Homo sapiens: one gene and its partner. The protein of the gene in region 1 purifies or fractionates together with the protein of each later gene. This does not show direct contact. Each region holds a gene or a part of one and is shown in the gene's direction. Other genes may lie near its edges.

The links. Proteins that work in one complex are often made in the same cells at the same time.
Region 2: the proteins of ARHGAP42 (region 1) and DEK purify together in Homo sapiens (affinity purification with mass spectrometry; one large-scale study listed by BioGRID and IntAct). This does not show direct contact.

The regions. Positions count from the first base shown.
Region 1 is NC_000011.10:100,991,288-100,994,441, forward strand, and holds the end of ARHGAP42 (rho GTPase-activating protein 42), read left to right. Parts: 3' UTR 1-2,654; downstream 2,655-3,154. UniProt on the Homo sapiens protein: May influence blood pressure by functioning as a GTPase-activating protein for RHOA in vascular smooth muscle.
Region 2 is NC_000006.12:18,247,531-18,251,030, reverse strand, and holds part of DEK (protein DEK), read left to right. Parts: intron 1-1,191; coding exon 1,192-1,380; intron 1,381-3,500. UniProt on the Homo sapiens protein: Involved in chromatin organization.

The DNA.
Region 1 (3,154 bases):
TCAGGACATGTACTCTAAATCACACAGAATGTTAATTCCACAGGAAGGCAATGCCAGACATTGAAAGAGGATCACATTCAACTTTTAATAGTAGTTCAATAACAAAACCTTAGCTTTTCAGGAACAATGTGAAGATACATTAGAATTGCCACATCCATATCTTCAAAACACGCAACCTCTGCACCCTAATAACTGCTTACGGTATAATCAGTATGATGATGAGATTGAGGGGGTCTAAATTTAAGTTCCTTATCTCCTGAGTTATGTGAAAATATCCCTCAGTACAAAACATTTGTGTGTTTCACAGATGACTCTCTTGTTTTGCCGTAATGCTACCAAGTTTATGGAAACTAGTCAACTGAAGGATTTTTCTGTTGTGTTATGTGTAAATGTCTGAACAGTAAAATCATCTGTGTATTCCTGTAACATTCACGAAGTATGAGGAAGTGGGTTTCTCCTTGTTTGATGTGAGTGGTTTTGCTTGTTGCATGGGTTCCCTGTGCTTTGTAACTTGCATGAACACAACCAGGTTTCTCAACAATGATTTGTCTGCTGACTCTTTTCAGAGATAGTGAAGGAAAAAAAATGTATTAAAACCCCAAATTATCTAGGTTTCCAAGTAGGAAAAATAAAGATACATATGACTTTTATTATTATTCGATGATAATTAGCTTTATATAATGTGGCATCCTTCATAAAAATTCACTATGTTGTGAGGCAAACAGATTTCTCACTATCATCCAGTGTACCCTGCTCACCTTCTCACTCCTAGCACCGTTCTTCTGGTCTGTGTTGAAAAGGGTATCATTCATGTGGTTTCAGTTTAGAAGAGTCCCTCAGAGCTTTGCCTCAAGCAATTTCAAATTGTAGTGATACCTTAAATCATGTATTCAGGATGCCTTCTTTAGCATTTAGAACCCCAACTAGACTTATACTTTGACTAAAGTCAGAGGCAGACCAATTTAGGGAACAGATTTTGTTCTTTGCTTTTATGATACATTTGTAACTCACAGCTGTTAGCATGACCTCACATCACTGCGTAGGACCCGGAAATCACATCTCCTGGTCAGGTCACGAAAAAGAACACAGGCTTGACTATTGTCCAGAAGTTACTTTCCCCTTGACTAAAGGTTTCCCCTTAGGGTACACATTGCTATTTAACTTTGCCTCCTACCCTTTTTTGTTACCTTCCAAAATCAAGACACTTTTAAGAAACAAAGATAGTTTTCTGAACATTCTGTGTCCTGCCTGTCTCCTGTTGATTCGCAGATGTAATATCGAGTATTCATCAACTGGTCTCAATTTCCTGAACACATTCACTGTATCCCTCATTGTCACCGTTATCCCCCTGCTTCAAAATGTGCCAGTTCCACTTGGTAATAACGTTGGGAAAATGCAGGTTTATGAATGATGTGGACTTTTAGAGGATCAAATCAATAAATTGGATTTTTTATTTTTTGAGGGCAGCTGCCCTCACTGTTTTAAATAAAGAATCTTACATAAGAATGTTGACAACATTCACAGTAAGCCATTGGCAGAAAATTGATCTGCATGTCCTAGACCAATGATTACAAGGTGTCTGTGGTTTAGGGGGCCCAGCCCATCATTCCTTTTCCCCTTGGCACTCATGAGAGAGATGCCAAGTTCAGTGTGGATTTTTCTTGGTGCTCTATGGAGAAATGGAGTCTGTGTGCTTACTGAAGAGTCCCAAAAACCAGAGACCATTTTCATTTACTGCCATCATAAATATTCTCCACCATTCAAGATGCCTGTGTACACGGCTATTTGGGAAACTTAAGTGTTGGAGGAGGCAGGGGCTGAAGGTGTCAAAACCTCCTCAGTAGGATAACCCCTTTCTCCCCTTTGGACCATCTGCCATCTTTCATGAGTGTTTCCCATGGTGTTTTTGCATCCAGAGTTGACAACAACTCAATTTTGCCTTGAATTTACTCAGTCTTATAAATTAAAAATGTGCATTTTATATAAAGATGCATTTTATATAAAAATGCACACCTTTAATCTCTATATGGCAGCATATACATATATATATATAAAATGCACACTTTTAATCTCTATATGGCAGCATTTTTGAGGCTTTATATCTGCCCGTGTACCCTCAACTGCCTCCTTTTTGCAGAGAACGATCCCCACAGGAACTGGTCTAAGAACACTGTCTGCACATGATTGATGCTTAAAATCCAATATACCACCACATATCAAAGGTTGGGATTTTCAGAGTCCTTCTTGATTTCTGAGCTGAAACCTTAACAAATAGGGAATTTGGCAGGGAAGACACCTGGGTTTTTAATTCAGAACCCTATTTATATACTGTTAAAATTTGAGGTACTGTAGTTTATATAAAAGTCGGATGTTAAGATATTATATTTCAGTACTAGGAGCTTCTTTGCAGTCATTAACATGACAAATTAAGTAATAAATATAAAAGTGATTGTCCATAAATTATCATTGAATTTTTTGTTTATTTTGTAGTGTTCTGTATTTATCTGCACTTTGTGTATATATACACACATACATATGCCAACATGTAAATAACCTCATGTTTATTCCTAATCTAAATTGCCACAATATTTTTAATGTATGGTTACACTGTGTTTTAAATTACTTTAAAAATAAACTTTGTAAGCAGATTTTAATTTAGTCTTTGTACTTGAAGACCCACTGTGTTGGAGGGCAATTGTCTTGGCTTCATGTAGAGAAAAAACAAAGTTTCTGGTACTGTGAGTGATCACTTTGGTATGGCTAAATCATAGCAGAATTTGGTGACCTTCTCCTCACAAATTGGTATTCTGCAAGCTTTGGAAAATGTTAATGTTGATAACCTATTAATAATGCAGGTATCCACCGAGGGGAGAGGGAAATGGGCCATATGCAAAATACTAAATATAACAAGCATACAGGCTTACCTGAAAATATATATGTTTATAAAAGTTTCCAAGTGTACTATGGAAGAAATATCAGCGTACAAATACCTCCTGTCCATTTTTATTAGTCTTATGAACCTCTTGGTCATGACTTGACTTCTAGGTAAAACTTTGCTTCGCTGCATCAAAAAAAAAGATAATCGTGTATTTCTTTTGCATTGCTCCATAGATTATTAGAGTGCAGCAAATCACCTTGCCAAAGCTAAGCCTCA
Region 2 (3,500 bases), on another chromosome or scaffold:
ATCAGGTGATCTCTGCTTTTAATATACATGGTTTAATTGATTATCAGAATAATAGCAGCATATTCTTAGTTTCATAATTAACATACTTATCATTTATTGTATACTTATAGGCATCAGTGATAATATGAGCCTGACATTGTTGAAAGTAGAGGCCAGAAGTAATGAATATAAACCGTATAGTTCATTCATAAATTCAGGATGTATAATTGGTAATAAAGTTATACATTTTTTTTATGGGCCAGGCGTGGTGGCTCATGCCTGTATCCCAGGACTTTGGGAGGCCAGGGTGGGTGGATCACTTGAGGTCAGGAGTTTGAGACCAGCCTGGCCAACATGGTGAAACACTGTCTCTACTAAAAATACAAAAATTAGCTGGGCGTGATGGTGCATACTTGTAATCCCAGCTACTGCACAACAGAATGAGACTCTGTCTCAAAAAAAAAAAAAAAAAAAAAAAAAAAAGGTTTTTCTCCCATTCCTTCGATTGGAGTGTTGGGCCTTCTAAAGCAAGGAGCTTCTTTGGCAGTGACAGTTTTTTGTTTTTTGCTTTTTGTGTTTTTTTGAGACGGAGTCTCACACTGTTGCCCAGGCTGGACTGCAGTGGCGCGATCTCGGCTCACTGCAAACTCTGCCTCCTGGGTTCACGCCTTTCTCCTGCCTCAGCCTCCCGAGTAGCTGGGGCTACAGGCGCCCGCCACCACGCCCGGCTAATTTTTTGTATTTTTAGTAGAGACGGGGTTTCACCGTGTTAGCCAGGATGGTCTCGATCTCCTGACCTCATGATCTGCCCGCCTCGGCGTCCCAAAGTGCTGGGTTGGCAGTGACAGTTTTAATGCTTGTAGGGATGAAATAAATTACAAATCTAACTTAAAATATTATCATGACAAAGTATTAACAGCCGTTGGAGCTTAACATAATGTGTCTTGAGCTTCTAGTCCCATGTCAGAACCTAGAATACATATTTCTCTACAATTGAGAAGGGTCTTGCTAGGTGTTTAGAACACAAATGGTATTAGTAACACAGTTTTAGGTTAACCTGACACGGTTAAAGATTATTCTCTGCAAAGCTGCTGGGCTTGTAAATACAATTTCTTGAGAGAGGAATAAGAAATTGAGTTGATAAGTTTTCAAGAAGAGAATTGATTGAAATATTATACCTCATTGGTGTTATCTTTATAAATTTTTATGCAGCCATTGCCGAAATCTAAAAAAACTTGTAGCAAAGGCAGTAAAAAGGAACGGAACAGTTCTGGAATGGCAAGGAAGGCTAAGCGAACCAAATGTCCTGAAATTCTGTCAGATGAATCTAGTAGTGATGAAGATGAAAAGAAAAACAAGGAAGAGTCTTCAGATGATGAAGATAAAGAAAGTGAAGAGGAGGTAAAATATTTTACTATATTTTTAAATCATTTCTTTCCATGGGGAGAGTTAAATATTTCTGCTATAAGGTACAGCCAGAAAACACTTCCTTATTGGTTGTTTTTAATTCTGAAGATGCAGAAATGATTAAGTATGAACCCATTTCTTTTCCTTAAAGAGCTTTTAGTTTCATTACCATGTCAGAGTATGAGTCAGAAAAGAGTGAGGTTGGTGTGGACTGGATTTGAAGTGGGCCTTGAGCTGGACGTTGAAGACTAGAGTAGATAAATGGGAAGGGAAGCGGAAGTGGTGCATATCCTGAATAGGACCACATAGGAGCAGATTCTTCGAGGATTTTTTTCGTAATATATTGATACTTTATAATTGACTTGGATCATTTTATTTTACGGAAAAAGCAAGGGACTTAAGGGCCTTTTTCCCCCCCTCAACCTTTAGGGGACTATGTAGTGAGAATAAACAGCATTTGAAGTTTATATAATGAGTGGATAAATTTTGTATTACCTGTCATTTTCTTTTATTTGGGAGTATTTGTAAAAGTTGAGACTCTTAGTTTCCAAAGTGAAACTTCATGAAGAAGAGAACTGCTGAAGCAGTTAAATAAGAGGGTTAACCTCTTCAGTCAGGTAGATCATGGAGAGTGGGTACAGGAGATGGGTTTCTATTATTGTTAATGATGTTTTGGTAGACTGTATTTTAACTTTGATGTTTTCGTTCAAAGGTTGGAACTTGCTCTATAGATTGGGTAATCAACCTTGCCTTATTTAGGGACTTGGATAATGTCAACTTGACATTTTGGACCAGATGATTCTTAATTGTGGGTGATATTCCCAAGCTCCCCTTGTGACAACCAAAAATGTTCTTCAGACATTGTCAAATGTCCCTGGGGCGAGACAAGGAGGGAATCATCTCCACTGAATTAGAAGGAATAAAGATATAGTGAACTCTGGTATTATATGATATGTGTGGGTGTTTAGTATGTATGTTTGTCTTGAGTTATTTACAATTCATGCTTGTTTTAGCGTCAAATTTTATAAAGACTTCTATAAAGCTAAGTATGAAATGCTTCATCATTTAAGAAAGAGGGTTACGAATCTAGTAGGTGCTTCATAAATATCTTAATATATATTTGGCACAAAGGAAAATAAGTAATCTGAGCATTAAGGTCTTTATGGATTGGATATCCGGGAGGAAAACATGTTTGTTTGTATGTATATATATAACAGTGGAAATTTTTAAACTGATAGTATCTTCATTCAGGAAATATTTGGTGTCTACTGTGTGCCATTCAGATTCCTAAACTCTCTTTATGGGCAGAGTTAAAGCACGAAACATTATCATAGAATATAAATGTCTAATTTTTTCATAGAGACGTTAGCATGGGCTCTGGAAACTGAGTTCAAATCTGACCTCTATATTGGATTATTACTGTATTAGTATAAGCAAGTTATTTAAACTATACCTCAGTTTCCCATCTGTAAAATGGGGAGTGATAATAGTATTAGCCTCATAGGGTCATATTAAAGGATTTTATTTAAAATACTTAGAGCGGTGCCTGGTGCATATAGTATGTAAGTATTAGTTGCTATTATTATTAGAATTAAAATGATGTTTTATGACAAGTAAAACTTCTAAATCGAATCTTCTTGTCATTACTAGGTGCAGGTTAAAAAGTGAGGGCAGGCCGGGCATGGTGACCCATGCCTGTAATCCCAGCACTTTGGGAGGCCGAGGTGGGTGGATCACCTGAGGTCAGGAGTTCGAGACCAGCCTCACCAACATGGTGAAACCCTGCCTCTACTAAAAATACAAAATTAGCTGGGCGTGGTGGTGCATGCCGATAATCCCAGCTACTCGGGAAGGCTGAGGCAGGAGAATTGCTTGAACCGGGGAGGCAGAGGTTGCAGTGAGCTGAGATCGCACCATTGTTCTCCAGCCTGAGCAACGAGCGAAACTCCGTCTCAAAAAAAAAAAACGAGAGCATTTTATACTCACTTTTAAAATTCGCTTTCTAAATTGTTGTCCCATAGTTCTGTAGAGGTAGTTGAACTTGGTGTATGCAGATGATACCTGATTTATACCCATATTGGTTCCAGGATAATAATCACAAGTGGAACCATCTC